2 separate regions of the Homo sapiens genome follow, and region 1 is linked to region 2. A link means that fine-mapping ties the variant in region 2 to the expression of a gene that starts in the linked region. Tissue or cell type: T cells. Region 2 holds a variant in brackets; the other region holds the start of a gene. All regions are shown on one strand. Distances are from middle to middle.

Region 1 (8,111 bases), 50 kb before region 2:
CTCAGCATCTTGGGGACAGTGACAGTGGAGTGGCAGACATCAATAAAGGACAGGTTGCTGAGGAAGAAATACATGGGAGTATGGAGCCGGTGGTCATAGATAATAGTTATGACAATGAGAACATTCCCAATCAGTGTCAGGACATAAAAAATGAGGAACATGGAAAACATAGCTATCCGTGCCTTATGATTTACAGATAAACCTCTAAGCCGAAAATATGTCACTAAAGAAGTTTGATTGAGTAGGATGGCCTCTTCCATTCTCTTTGTTAGACAACCTGTAAAGAATTAGAAAAAAAGTCTAATATAACACAGTATCTGCATCAATCATTTGGTCATTTAATTTCTTGTGTGTTTATGCCTTTTCTCTCCATCTAGAATTTATGGTAAAATATCTTGCATTTCTTTTAAAAATCCCCATTAACATCTTACATGATGATACACCCATAGTAGGTACTTAACATACACTTTTGGAATAATAAAATAGAGAATCTTCATTCATTAAGAGATATAAAACAATCTTGAAGAGGGAGAGAGAGAGGGAAAGACCAAACAAGTTATTTCTCCATTAATGTAGTAGGATATCAATGTTTAGATTTAGGTTATGGATTTTTACAGGAGAAGAAGTTAAGATTCTCTTTAACTCAAATACATAATTTGTTCAAGGCTACACAAATATGGTCCCTGAACATAGCTTTTTTTTTTAATAGTCCTGCAGACTGCACTTTTCATCAACCCAAACCACTTGCTCAGCTGTTGGCTTTGCCATGGGGCTCTGAGACTGTAATTTCCATGACATAACTTTCAGAGGGCAGAAGCTTTGTACCAAGCTACTGGACAATTGGCAACGTGGCTGTGATGTTCTTGAACAATTGTTTAGAGAAGGCAGGATAAAACCCTGGAAGCCTTGGAAAATGTGGAAGTTGACCTCTCCTCCACCCCTCAGCTGAGGGCAGACTTATTCTTAAACTGGGAGTCAAGATCCAAGCCTAATAACATTACTGTCTTGATTAGATCACTCTAGCTCTTTTCAAAGTCCCGTTCTGTTGTCTTACTGGCCCACAAGTGAAATAAAAATAGTTATTTTCTTTTAAATTAGCCTATGACTCAAGCACCACTATTTTTTAAAATAACGAGCATATGCATTATAGTCACAGGATTTTAGCCCTTAAAGGGACTTGAGAGTTGACATAATCTATTTTTTTTTCATTTTACAAATAGAGAAAATGAGGCACAGAGAGTCAAATCAACTGGTCCAAGGTTACACGGAACTGGAGTCACAGCTGGGTCTAGAGCTCAGGTCTCCCGACTCTTGGTTCAGGCTTCGTCCGCTCTACCACCACTCTCATCTGAATTTTTGTGGTAGTTGGTAGAATCAGGGAGTGAAGCAGAATATGTCTTAGTGGCCTCTCTCTTCCTCTCCTTGGTGTCCTGAGTCAGATTGTGGGGCAGGGTTAGGGGGACTATGAGGAATCTCTCTTTTCTAGCTTTCCTCCTTCATGCTGCTGCCCTGACACACACAGCCTTCCAGGGGTGGCCCACCCAAGGAAGCTGTCTCTCTTGGTTGCTTGGGCCCCATGATCCTTGCTACTTCCTTCCTATCACAAGTGACTACTGGAGATTTATATCATCCCTCAAGATCAGGCTCCCTGGCAGACTAATGAGTCAACCCCACACTGCTTGTGAAATGTGGCAAAGAAGATATTTTTGGGGCCAGAGAAGTCCTTCAGTTAACACTTAAAAATTAAACTCACTGTGTCCAGTGTTTGGATTAATATTTACAGCAGCATCTAAATGTAGCTATTGATTGATTTTACTGTTTAGAAATTTTTCTTCGAGTATTCGTTTGAAGCTTTTGCTCCAAGAAGTGATTTTAAGTGTTACTGATTTACACTTGTTTTCATGGTCGCAAAATTCAAAGCCGAAGAGCTGACCAAGAATGGGGCTAGGATTTTATTCAGTATGGGAAATTTCACCTGCACAGACTGAAGAGGGTGTGCAGACCAAGAACTAGGTCTGAAATGAAGGCTTCTGTTCTCCCCTCATAGAATATGGATATACATTTTAAACTAAACTTTTTCCATAATTATCATTTTTTTCTATTTCTGTGGAGCCACAGGAAAAAAATGCTTTGCAAAATGGAGATGTGTTCAACTGCAGTAGAAAGAATATGGTGCACAAGAAGAAAACCTAGTGTTTTTTGCATACATTTCAAGGAAATGGGGAAAGATGATTAAGAACAGATATAAAATCCAACTAAAATATCTATAAAAGTCACCTGGGTTGTTTCTGATGCTCTTAGTACCTCCAAAAGTAACAGAAGTGTCAGTCCTGCACTTTCAATATCAAGACTTTTATCTTCCAGTAGAAATAACAACTTATTTGAAGTTGGACTAGTCAGATAACCCCATTTACCTTGCTTTCTCCAATAAGAAAGGTGAGAGCCCTTGAAGTTCCCTCCTTAGGTCTTGTTCACAGTTTTGGTGATGTCACAGTAGATGTATTTGGCGATATTTTCTGGTAAAAGGTACTATTTCAGGCTGTCTGTAAAAATCACACCTTTGTAGCTATATTATTATCATATTTTTCAATATGTCAAAATATGTAATTCTGCACCAAGATTTTCTAGGATTGGTTTCCAGTTAACAGAAAATGTAGTACAGAAATAATATATATGTTTTCACTTTTCCAGATTGTAGTGGTGAGTAGAGGAGATTAAAAGCCACAGTCAAGCCCGGGCAACATGGCGAAACCCCGTCTCTACAAAAAATACAAAAAATTAGCTGGGCATGTTGGCTTATACCTGTGGTTCCAGCTGCTCAGGAGGCTGAGGCAGGAGGATTTCTTGAACCCAGGAGGTCAAGGCTGCAGTGAGCCGTGATTTTACCACTGCACTCCATCCTGAGCAACACAACGACCCTGTCCAAAAAAAAAAAAAAAAAAAAAGAGTCAGCCACTTTTGCAGGCCCTTCAGGTTTATTAGGACACTTCTAACACAAAACTTGATCTAATTATTCAGAAAACCAGTGCGGCAGAAGCATCCTATTTCCTTTGCAGCACACTGTTTAGGTGCAAGTTTTGTATTGCCAGTTTCAGGTGGATTATTCCACCTTCAAGTACTGAAGGGGAATCTGTAGAGAAAGAAGCGCTGGCAGCTGTAGTGTTGGTGTTGTTCTACCTACATTATATAGGCTTTATGTCCTTGGGAACTTTTAAGCAATGACATCAGCTTGCCCTACTCACTAGTTAAGAAAAGTTAATTCTGTGGGGAATGAAGTTACAGACTTTGCAATAATCACCAAGAGAATTAAATGAGAAAAGCAGTACTTAAATACCTAAATCTTTAGGATGTATTTATATATGGTTAGATTAACTACTATTTAGTGATTGCCTACTATGTGCTAAGTATTAGGTAATAGGCTTTCATGTTTTCTTATTTAACTCATATAAAAATACAGAGATGAGAGAAGGGTAATGAAGTTAAGATTTTTTTTTTTTTTTGAGATGGAGTCTCACTCTGTCACCCAGGCTAGAGTACAGTGGCGCGATCTCTGCTCACTGCAGGCGCCGTTCCCCAGGTTTACGCCATTCTCCTGCCTCAGCCTCCTGTGTAGCTGGGACTACGGGTGCCTGCTACCTTGCCCGGCTAATTTTTTTTGTATTTTTAGTAGAGACGGGGTTTCACCGTGTTAGCCAGGATGGTCTTGATCTCCTGACCTCGTGATCCGCCTGCCTCGGCCTTCCAAAGTGCTGGAATTACAGGCATGAGCTACTGCGCCCAGCCGAGGTTAAGATTTTAGTCAGCTTTCTGACAGAGAGATTAAGTGCTTTGACTCTAGAGCAGATTGGGTGCAAATTCCAATGTCCTACACGTGCTAATTGGAGCAAGTTATTTAGCTTCTCTGGTCCTTAGATTTCCCATCCGTAAGCTTGAATAGTAATAGTAAAACTTTTTAGAACTCTTGAAATATTTGTAAAGCATGTAGCTCTTAGCATATTAATATAATTATGTTAAATGCAATTCAAACAAACAAAAAAACAGCCGACCATCACTACCAGTCAACATTTTTGGCTTCATTTTTTCATTATTTTGGATAACAGTGAAAATTTAGAACCTCTTGTTCCAATTTTCTTTTTGCTTTCTCTCTTTAGATAGATGAGCTTGGTGGTTTAAATTGGTGAAACAAGACTCCAAAGGAGAGGTATGAAGATTATACTTTCAGTTTGAATTTCAAGACTGAATAGTTTTGTGGGATGGTTAGGATATCTTAAATAAAGGGTATGGAGCATAAAATAAATCTTATAGCCAACTCTCCATGTGACAGTGAGTAGAAGAGAAGATGGTAATAAGAGTGAACATATCAGAAGTTACAGAAAATGCTTTCTCCTAAGGCCTTGTGGCTTGGGCTTCTTTTCCCTAGTTTTCTTGTTTGATTCATTATCACTGATCAAAGTCCAGACTTGGCTGTAATGAAGAAGGTGTAGCTTCCAGAACTTTACAGATATTGCCACTTGGTCACTGTGGGACTTCTATTGTCATTGTAATAGCCTTGGAAATCAGGGGACACATTAAGAACAGGGATATGCTGGCCATACTAATTATCTGTTAAAACAAATGAAATATGGCCTGAGAAGGACTCTGTACTTGAGTCCTTGTGGATGACCTGTAACCTAGCTTAATAGGCAGACAAGATTGAAAACCTAACTTAGGAGTATGCACCTGTAACAGTAGCTGAGTTTTGGCCAATCCCAGCAGCCATACTTCAACCACTCATAGTCTGCTAAGTGTTCAAACTGTGTTCAAATAAGGCAAATGTCAACCTGGTGCACCAATCCAGCTGTTTCTATACCTCACTTCTGATTTCTGTACTTCATTTCCCCTTTTCTTTTGTCTGTAAATCTTCTTCCACCATGTGGCTGTGCTGGAGTCTCTCTGAATCTTGCTTTGATTCTGGGGGCTGCCTGATTTGCGAATGATACTTTGCTCAATTAAACTTCTTTAAATTTAATTTGGCTGAAGCTTTTCTTTTAACAAATGGTGTCAGAAGTGGGATCTGAAGTAGACCTTCTAACAACCTCCAAAATTGCTGAGTCAACAAGCAAGTTACCTGATGAACGTATTTGTGTCCTTTGATGTCTCAGAATGGCTGGGGATTGTGGTAAGTTCTCTCTCAGATTTCGGAGCTCCACAGATTTATGTTTTGAGCTCTCCAGGTTTCTTTGAGCAAATTTCTGATCCAAACTGGGTTTGAAAGTCATGACAGAAACTGGACGGGTTGAGGATCAAATTTGATCTGGTAATTAACTAGCTTGGATCCAGTTAGAAGCCTCTTACCTCTGACTGGGTCAGAAAGAAACTGGTAGTAAGAGGTAATATTGCAGGGGTTATAAAATTTTGCTTTTAAAAATTCACAAGGATTTTTGTGTTCTACTCCTTTGTTTCATTTTTCTTGCACACTTAGGTAGGAAAGATCATTGGCTAAGTTAATCAATGGAACCTAGAGCCACGCCAATATTTTAGGTAAAAATGGGATTCTCAGTTTCTGAAAAACTGAGTTCCTTCTAGCTTATACATTATACATACATTATACATACATATACATTCCTTCCAACTTATACATTAGGCCTGGGAAGCAGCAAAGTCTTAGAGAAATGGTGAAATCTTACTAAAGATAATTTACAGTGGAATGTTCTGAATAAACAACAACATAGAAGTGTATTTAAAAATAAGGGCTCCTCCACGTGGCTCAGGCCTGTAATCCCAGCACTTTGGGAGGCCCAGGCGGGCGGATCACGAGGTCAGGAGATCAAGACCAGGGTGAAACCCCGTCTCTACTAAAAATACAAAAAATTAGCCGGGCGCAGTGGCGGGCGCATGTAGTCCCAGCTACTCGGGAGGCTGAGGCAGGAGAATCGCATGAACCCGGGAGGCGGAGCTTGCCCTCAGCCGAGATCGCACCACTGCACTCCAGCCCAGGCGACAGAGTAAGACTCTGTCTCAAAAAAAAACAAAAAAAAAACAAAAAAAGGGCTCCTCAAAATTAAATCTGCTAACTGTTTAGTTTAGTTACTATCCTGATCCAAAGGAAACAGACTGCAGCACCAATTGGCTGACTTTGGGTAAGTAGTGGGGTACATTTTACCTGAGTAAAGGATGGGATTGCATTGGAGGCCCTCCCCTCAGTAAAGTCCCTCTTGGTTAAAAATGGATTAAAGATGACAGGGCTCAACCAGGGGCAAGTTTGAGCCTTGCCAGTTCAATACTGCATGCTAAGCAGAGTGGCTAATGTCTATGTTTTGTCACATGTATTTTGCTCTGTCCAGAATGCCAAATGTTAATTTCATTACCCTATGCAACCCCTTGGGTGGCATCCTGCAACAGTGAGAAAATTTTGCCTGTGGTTCCATGATTTTTTGTGTATGTGGTTGGCTCCCTGGCACTATAGTATGTTTCAGGGAAGGGGAACCCAGGAACCTAACACGCTGGCAAAAGTGTAAGAATTTCTTACCAGTCAGGTTTCTGGCCTCTCTTTCCCTGTGCTTCTCTTTCCTTGTGCAAACTGGGAAAGTTCTGGCCTCTCTTTCCCTGTGTAAACTGGTTAAATGAATGGTAAAAAATCACTGTTTATCTTCTGCAAAGTTTTGATTAATGGAAAAAAGTATTTATGAGGTTAGTCTTAAGCTGTAGCGAATCTGGTATGTTTATGCATCTTCTGTATCATTCTTTCATAAAGAGGGGTACCATAGGATTGAACATGGGCTTTAAACCCCATAAGCCCACTGCTCAAGATGGCCCAGCAAGCTGGTCAGTAACAAACTTTGCTGCAGGATCCTGAAACAAACAAAAAAACTGGATAAGGTCTCCATATTGTTTTATGTCTTTGGGAGCTTGACCTTGTGACCATATGGTGGTACTTTCTCTTGCTCTCTGCCTTCCAGGGAAAAGGAATTTTAGGGTTCATGTCATAGTTACCTCTAAAAATTATCTTGAGTAGTTAAAAGCCTTTGCAAGCTCAAAATTAACTACTCTAGACTCCTTCTGGGATGGGCAGTGGAGACTTCCCAGTGCTGTAGCTCAGTAGCTAAGATTTTGTTCTTTCACAGTGGTGGCTTGGATTCAATCCTGGCTTAGGAAATGCATACTTTCTGGTTGATATCTGTGTGACCTTTATCATTTGTTAATTCTCTTCCTCTCCATGAACAACTTCTGACTTCCCTTCTTGAATTTTCCTTTCTTTGAGCTACCTTTGAAGATTCTAGATTTTGTAAAAACTGCATGTTTTCCTAGCCCTGTTTCTTGAAGGGCTCTGCCCTAAGGCCAGAATTAAGAAACTGGCAAATAAAACATCTAATAACTACTGGATCTTCTTCTGTCTGTGTATTTATGTATGTGTTGTGTGTATGATGTTTATATAAAAGATCTCTAATTAATTGGCATAAAAATAAGCTCTTAAATCAAATATTTTGAAAGAAAGATAAAAATCCTAATGTCTTTTAGCTCATGTAACTTTAGTAATCTTTGGGAAATAAAAACAGCTTTAAAGATTATTGGTAAAATAAAGACATTTGGTCTAAATTAGGCAGGTCAGATATTAGGTTTATTAAATGCTTTAAGGTCATGAACTGTTTTGACTTTTGAAAATTGTTCAATTTACCTACCTTGAAGACACTAGATTCTAGATAAGCCCTGGGGACATGTGGAATTAGCAATGCCCCTTAGCCATGCAAAGAAGGTTATAAAGAAAAGATATTTTTATATAAGAAAGAATACTGTATGTTAAATTCTTATCCTAAAGTAAAATAATGGTTATTTAAAAAGAGAGATGTTTAGGACAAGTCAGAAAGTCCAAGCACACTGTAGATGAAAGTCTGTGTAAGTCATGAAAGGATTCGTGAAAGGAAATCTGTGCACCAAAAGCAAAAGTTGCTGAGTTACCATTATAAGATGTGATTGAGATTACTGAAAAAAATAGTTTTACGTGCAGGGTATGTGAGGATAGTAAAATGTGTTTTTGGCAAAAGATTATAAGAAGGCATGGGAATGTAAATTTTTGCCTAGTTTAGAGGGTTAAAGGATTGTTTTAAATTATGTTAGAATAAGCTAAAAGCTTG
Region 2 (8,111 bases):
ATGCCTTTGAAGTCGGTAAAATATGGGTTAAAAATCTTTGTTCTTTTTCTTAAGGATGATGAGCAAATTATTCAATTTTCCTCAACTGTGGTCCCCTCATCTCTAAAATGGGGCATCTTAGGAAGAGTAAATGTGACAAAGAATGTAAAGGGTTTAATGTTATGCTCACGGCGACATTTGATGAATAATTTCTTAATTAATCTCAGAAATCAAAGCAGATAAGCTGAATAGCTACTGAGGCTATGTTGTTCAATTTTGAAATTTCAGTCTAGGCCCATGGAATTCTTTGGGTGCTGCTGGTTACTTTGTGTGCAGTGCATTATGTGGAGGTCCCTGAATCCTTCTCTATCTGCTGAGCAGTTAAAAGGCAGTTCTTTAACTGGAAGCAAACACGAAGACTAAACTGTCCTAGTTTTGAGGAAGAATAAGAAGGAGGAGGAGGAGGAGGAGAAGGAGAAAATGAAGATGAAGAAGACGAGAAGAAGAAGAAGATTAAGAAGAAGATGATTAAGGATTCTGCAACAGTTCTGTCATTGCAAATGACTACCCATTTCTAACCACGACATAAATTCAGAGGAAAACTTTCCTCTTTCTATAGCTGAACATGCTTAATTAATAAATATGGTTAGTTCCTTCCATAAGTATCCTTTAGGGGGAGACCACTAAACAATCAACCATTTCTAGCACAAAATTAAAAATATCAGTCTCCTAAATATTTAGTTCACTTGAGGCTCTTGGCATTAATTATTAAATGGATGAAGGCAAACAATATCTCAGCCACTTGCACGATCTAGGCATAATCTTGTGTGCTGTATCTGTAGAGGTCAGAGGAAGTAGGGATTGGAAAAATAATCAAGGCACTGAAGTCTACACTAGACTACTGTTTTAGTTAAACTTATTTTATTTGCTTTTTTATGTTGATCATATCATATGTTGATATATGCCCATATATGCGTTTATAGGGCAGCAATAAACTCCAGTGTCAGGAGGCTGGACAGTCTCTGTTTTCCTCTTCAGGTCTATTCTATCCTGCTCTGTACTAAAGTCTATATTAGACTATTGTTTTAAACTTATTTTATTTGTCTTTTTATGTTTGTCAAAATGCAGTATAGCTATGCCCGTATATGCATTTGTAGGGCAGCAATAAACTCCAGCATCAGAGGGCTGGACATTTCTCCATTTTCCTCTTCAGGTCTATTATATCCTGCTCTGTACCCCAGGAGGCTGACTTCTATACGTTATGTGGACTGGTCTCCCATGTCCATTGGCATCTGGTTGGGTTTACCCCAGTGGGAGGTATTAGCAGGAGAGAGTGGTCAAGATATTTGCATTTTAGGATCCTTTCTTTCCTCTACTGAAGTTTACAGCTCCTGTTGGGTCTACCCAGAATATGGTCAAGAAGAGGTATTTAGACTGTAAAGGGTCATGTCGCCTTTGGCCTGTGATTAGTTACAGGTGTCCTGAGATTAGGGTAATTTCATCTTCTCCCGTCCCTTTGGGCCTAGGAGTGGTGAAATCTTCTGGCTGTTATTAGCCCCAGGTGCTTCACCTTCCCTTGTAGTTTTCCCTAAATTTTGCACATACACTTAAAAATATTCTTTTTGTTAAGCTTTTTTTCAATGATTTTCTCGAGGCGATTGCCAGGACCCTCAAAAAGACAACACTAACACTCATTTTAGGCTTGAGGCAGAGAGAGAAGAAAGAGAAGAAATTCACTATATGTTTCCATTTATGACAAGTCTCTCTGGAACTTGAAGATTATTGTTTAAAGACAGTTTACCAATTCCAAAGAAAAACATTATTATATGGCTAAGTTTTCAATGATTAAATATGAGATCTTTAGCAAAGCTTTTAGAAAGAATTATGTTCCACTTTTTTTCTGATTCAAAGCAAAGAGATTTTTCATCCTTTCCTCAGAATATATAGTGAACATTATTTGGACACTATTCAAAAGAAACAGAAGGCAAATCAGAGGAACAACTTCTTTATATTGATACATGCTTTTTACATTAAAATTAAAATCTATCAAAGAATCACTCAGTTGCTATTGTTGCCTTTTTTTAGTATAAAACTTTAGCATGCCATCCCTTTCCAATGAACCCCTTTTCCCCATCATAATACATCAAGTTTCGTTAACCATACATTTTTTGCTGAATACGTACTTCATTTGAAGTCTGTTTTAAGTAGGCTCTGCATGTGGAAAGTACCTGTTTTGCAACCCCTTCTCAGAGTTTCATTTTTTTGTTTTATATGTACTGTTTAATATGACAAATGCTCCAAAAATATTTATAACACCTATTCGTACTTTTCTCACTCTAAAAATGTTTAAAGAGAAGATTCAAGTTTCTTTTTGCCCTAAAGATCATTATGGGATGGGCTCCTAATAGGCCCAACGTGGAGAAAATTCTGAGTTATTTTTGGTCAAAGAGGTTTACACAGAAGCCAGCTCTGAATTACTTCTAACGAGAAGAGCAAGGCTCCTGTTTTCGCCTGTCATTTATCTTCTCTTGCCTTACTCTTTTCTCCTATTTTGCTTTTTCTTATCTCTCACTTTAAATTTTTCTCTCCCTCTTGATGCAAAGCTATATTTTCCTTTCTTTTTCTGTGCATTTTCCCATCCTATTTCCCTTCTTTCTGTCTCTACATTATCTTAAGAGAGCACAAATCATTTACAGCTTGATCCACTCAGCCTGAATCTTTTCCACTTTGATTCACAAACTTCTATTTCTTCTCCTTTGAACCCCTAATTTGCTCCCTATGTCCCTCATGGAGCGTGTAACCATCCAAAGGTTGGCCCAGGGATAAGGCCAGGAAGCACCAGCTGCTTGACAGTAAAGTCGCTGGTCCTACGTGTGGGCTCTAGGGGGCGATGCAGTGTAAGGTCTGTCCTGGGCATAGGCGGAGCGGCAGTCTTGCTCCTCACAGAGCTTTGAGGAGCTGGATCAAAATTGTGCTCCACAGAGAGAAGATACCGGTGTCGGGAAGCACCAGTGCCCTGAGGAAGGGCCATTTCCAAAAGCCCTGTGCTGACACAGGGTTGCTGGTTCCTCTTCAAGAGCCCACTCTCTGGGGTGGGGCCATATCTCCAGCAGAGGTGGGCTGGAAAGGACCCCCCCA[A/G]TCCCGCCCGCCGTGAGCTTAGCTGGAGCCATGGCCTCTGCACCCATCTCGATGCTTGCGATGCTCTTCACATTGAGTGAGTAATATCCCCTTCCCATTTTCCACTCGCATGATCCACTTACATGCTCTCCAGCAGCTTCACTGATGCAGCATGATTAATTTACAGGTGGGCTGAGAGCTCAGTCAGTGGCTCAGCCGGAAGATCAGGTCAACGTTGCTGAAGGGAATCCTCTGACTGTGAAATGCACCTATTCAGTCTCTGGAAACCCTTATCTTTTTTGGTATGTTCAATACCCCAACCGAGGCCTCCAGTTCCTTCTGAAATACATCACAGGGGATAACCTGGTTAAAGGCAGCTATGGCTTTGAAGCTGAATTTAACAAGAGCCAAACCTCCTTCCACCTGAAGAAACCATCTGCCCTTGTGAGCGACTCCGCTTTGTACTTCTGTGCTGTGAGAGACACACACTGATAGGGGCTGCAGGGGGAGCAGAACACAAACTCTTGAGTCTGGTAAAGCCCATTTTCTTGAAGTCTTTGTTCCTTCACATGAGAACGGTGTGCTTCCAGGATATGTCACTTATTATGTTAAACTACAATTTAAAACCATAGAATTTGCTCATTCAGCAAGTGTTTATTGAGTCCTGATGTGCCAGGTACTGGGCAAAGCACCGGTCATAAAAAGGTGAAAGAAGTGTAAAACAAATAGAAAAAAACATAGGGGAAAATTACCATGACATTGGTCTGGGCAAGAAGTTCCTTCCTTCCTTCCTTCCTTCCTTCCTTCCTTCCTTCCTTCCTTCCTTCCTCCCTCCTTCCCTCCCTGCCTCTCTCTCTTTCTTTCTTTCTGAAAAGGGGTTTATTTTCAACAGACATTTCTTTTTATACCGAGGTGAAATGTCATCATCATAATAATTTTGCAATGTTACATACCCTGTTGAGACCATTAAAAAATTAGGTTCATGGTATACACGTCCAAGTTTGTTACAAAAGCATATTGTGTGATGCTGTGGTTTGGGCATCTATTGATCCTGCCACCCGAAGAGTGAACATAGTACCCAGGAGAAAGCTTTTCATCTCTTGTGAGCAAGGAATTTTTGGATATGACCCCAAAAGCACAGGCAACAAAAGCAAAAATAGACAAATGGGGCTATATTAAACTAAAAAGCTTCTGCACAGCAAAAGAAACAATAAATAGAGTGAAGGGAAAGCCTATGGAATGGGAGGAAATATTTGCAAACTCTACATCTGATAAGGGGTTAATATTCAAAATGTTTAAGAAGCTCACATACCAAAAACATCCAAATAACCTGATTAAAAAATAGGCCAAGGAACTGAATAGTCGTTTCTCAAATGAAGGCATAAAAATGGCCAAGAGGTATATAAAAAATGCTCAACATCATTAATTATCAGGAACGTGCAATTAAGACCACCATTAGATATCACCTCACAACCTATTAGGTTGGCTATTATCAAAAAGACAAAAGATAACAACCATTGTTGAGAAGGTGAAGAGAAGGGAACTCTTCCACACTGCTGGCAAGAACGTAAATTCCATAATGTGCAACCATTATGGAAAACAGTAGGGAGGTTTCTCAAAACACCAAAAATAGAACTACTGTATGATCCAGCAGTCTCACTATTGGGCATATATCCAAAGAAAATGAAATCAGTATGTTAAAGAGATATCTGCACTCTCATGTTTATTGCAGCACTATTCACAATAACCAAGATATGGAATCAATCTAAGTATCTATACTTAGATGAATGGATAAAGAAAACATGGCATATAAACACAATAAAATACTATTCAGTCTTATAAAAGGAAGAAATCCTGCCATTTGTGACAACACAATTGAGCCTGGAGGACATTATGTCAAGTGAAATAAGCCAGGCACAGAAAGACAAATACCACATAATCTCACTTATTTGTGTAATAAAAAGGTTGAATTTATCGAAGCAGAATAGAATTGTGGTTACCAGAGGCTTGTGAGGGGAATGGAAAGGGATTGGAGAGATGTTGGTTAAAGGACACAAAATTTTAATTAGATAGGAAGAATAAGTTCAAGATATCTACTGCAATGGTGACTATAGCTAATAATAATGTATTTGCAACAGAATTTTTTTTTTTTTTTTGAGACAGAGTCTCACTCTGTTGCCCAGGCTGGAGTGCAGTGGAGTGATCTCGGCTCACTGCAACCTCCACATCCCAGGTTCAAGCTATTCTCCTGCCTCAGCCTCCCAAGTAGCTGAGATTACAGGAGCCCGTCACTAACCCTGGCTATTTTTTTGTATTTTTAGTAAAGACGGGGTTTTACCATGTTGGCCAGGCTGGTCTCGAACTCCTAACCTTGTGATTCGCCTGCCTCAGCCTCCCAAAGTGCTGGGATTACAGGCGTGAGCCACCGCGCCCAGCTGCAACAGAAATTTCTAAAAATTGCTGAAAGTAGATTTTAAGTGTTCTTACCACAAAAAGGATATGTATGTGAGGTAATGCAGACGTTAATTAGCTTGATTTAGCCATTCCACAATGTACACATATTTCAAAACATTATGTTGTATACCATACATATATACAATTTTATTTGTCAGTTTAAAAAAGAATTGAAAGAAGCTATCTTTGATCTCTATGTGCCAGGTGTGTTTCCAAACATTAATGAACGCATTTAATTCTCACAAGTATTATCATCAGCTTCACTTTACAGATGAAGAAGCAAAGTCACAGAGAATTTAAGTATCTTGCTCAAGTCACAAAGTTAATAACTGGTAAATTGCAACCCAGGCAGTGTGTCTGTAGGGCACATGGTCCAACTACTCCACTCCTCTGCCAGTCTATAGGCTTCTTGGGGCAAGAGACTGATTTTGGTGATGGTGTAGCCCTAACTCCAGAAAGGGTCGCTGTCGGAAAAGTGTTGGTTATATGAATGAACAATACACTGACACTCTAAACAGTTTGGTGTGTGCCAAGATAGAGAATTCAAAAAATGCTCTATGAGATGAGGATATAGGAATAGCTTAGCTGTGAAAGAAGACAGAAGCAGTCTGTAATGGGAGGAGAGTTTGAATCAAGGAAGGGTATAAACGTGTAGTTCTTATAAGGATAGTTGCTTACGGTTCCTATGTTCACATCTTCCTTATGCTCTTGAGAGGAACTGGACTTAATGCACTTTTCTCTCTTTATCTTTTCCCAAATTTGAGTGTCGTGGGAAGGGCTCTGTTTGACTCAGTGTGAGTTAGGTGGCTTTTCCTTGGACTAATCAGTGGTGGCCATGGGTACAGGCTGCTTGGATTAGCCCAGCTTGGCTTCCACCTTTGGTGGCTGGGGGTGGGAGTGAGGATTCTGCAAGTTAGCAGCTCTATTTTGAACTGCCTGGTTAAAAGGAGTATGTCCCCAAATAAGTTAATTTTTACACAGGGATCTACATCTGTTTATTTTTTCCCCCAAATGGATAGCCAGTAGTTCTTACACCACCTCCTGAAAAATTCACTTTTGCCCCATAGATTTGAAATACCATATTTATAGTACATTAAATTCCTAGATATACTCAGATCTACTTTTGAACTCTTGATTTTTATAGTTTTGTGCTAGAATGTGCTGCTTTAGGGAGATTCACCCTGCAGCCTTTGGTTTGTACCTTGTGATTTACCAGCCTTCTTTTCCTATCCTTCAATCCATCACATACCTTGAGAAGCCTTATACACAAGGATGTGGACACCTTAGCCCACATGTCTACAGTCCAGGCAAACAGTGATCTTTTGGCCACCCATTGGGCCTAGAGTTGTGTACACAGGTGGGATATCTGCTTCTGGGAAGATAATCCTTGAGATAGGCCCATGCAGATCTTAAAAGTGTGTTTGGGGATGTTTGTGCAGGGAATTCTGAAATCCTAGTACCCAGAATATGGTCAAGAAGAGGTATTTAGACTCTAAAGGGCTATGTCTCCTTTGTCCTGTGATTTTCTCACAGGGAAAGGGATAAGAATAGCTGAATAATAGCTGGGGTGGAGGCACAGAACTCTGAGCAGGGACGTCACTTGCTCAGGTCTAAGGGTGGCAGTGTTCTGTACCATTACTGCCAGAATACATTTGTATTCATGAAACCATGGTATCTGTTTTAGATTTAAGTATACAGTTGCCATAACTCTAGGTAAGCTCTCAGCCACCATCACTGTTTTCACTCCAAAGGAAGTTCATGTCCACAGGGATATTTTTATCACATTACACCATTGACCTGGCTGTGTGGCCTGTTTCTGCCTTTGATACTTATAAATACAATTTATGCAAGTCCTGCAAAGGAAAGAAGTCTTTCTATACAATTATGATGTATTTATTCATTTAGCTATTCACTTATTCACTCAATGATTATTTGTGGAGTTTTGACTATGTGCTTGGCATTGTTATCATCCCTGCAGATGCAGTGGTGAACAAATCTTTCCCTCCAGTCATTCCCCAGGCTGCACACGTGTTCATATCACTTCCCTACCCAAACAGAACTACTTCTTAGTCAAAGAGATACAACTCTCAAGATGATTTCCTTCTCAGGAAAATTCTCCAAGGTTAAGCTAAGCCTTAGATATTAATCTTTTGTCATGTGGTAGTGATTGGTGGTGGTGGTGATGGGAGGGGAGTTATGTAGGGAAATGAGAATCTATATTTTCCCCCTTTTTTAAGGTGGCTCAGAGGGAACAACTATGTCTTTTTAGAAGTTCTGTTTTGACTTAAAGAAAAGTTAGTCTAGCATTCCTTTTTCCTGTTTGTTGGGAAATACTCCTTATAAACAGATAAACTTCAGGAAAAATGAGAAATTCTGGAAAACTTATCTTCATAAGGTTTATTTTTCTCCCCCCTTTTATATCACTTCAAGAACTTTGTGGAAAGAGAACTGAATTAAGAATTAGGGAGCATAGGTTGTTTCTGATTCTTCCTCTAAGTAACTATGTGACATTGGACATGCCATTTCTACTCTATGTGCCTCATCTCTTAATTAATGAAATT

Which allele goes with the higher level. Positions count from the first base shown, and alleles are read on the strand shown. Sizes are in standard deviations (SD) of each study's normalised expression.
For the expression in T cells of the gene that starts at base 3,143 in region 1, A is the low allele of the variant in region 2 and G is the other (moderate effect, 0.46 SD a copy in GENCORD).

What was found. PIP is the estimated chance that this variant, and not a neighbour inherited with it, causes the effect.
Region 1: OR4E1 starts here. The variant in region 2 is fine-mapped to the expression of OR4E1 in T cells (GENCORD, PIP 0.95).

The regions. Positions count from the first base shown.
Region 1 is chr14:21,670,676-21,678,786 of GRCh38, forward strand. It overlaps OR4E1 (olfactory receptor family 4 subfamily E member 1), which reads right to left and starts at 3,143. Exons shown (of 2, transcript NM_001317107.2): 1 at 2,415-3,143; 2 at 1-277. The coding sequence starts at 260. It also overlaps TRA.
Region 2 is chr14:21,720,742-21,728,852 of GRCh38, forward strand. It overlaps TRA and TRAV3. Among named protein-coding and RNA genes, the nearest start is that of OR4E1, 51 kb to the left of the region's middle. The variant A/G (reference allele first, on the strand shown) is at 3,118.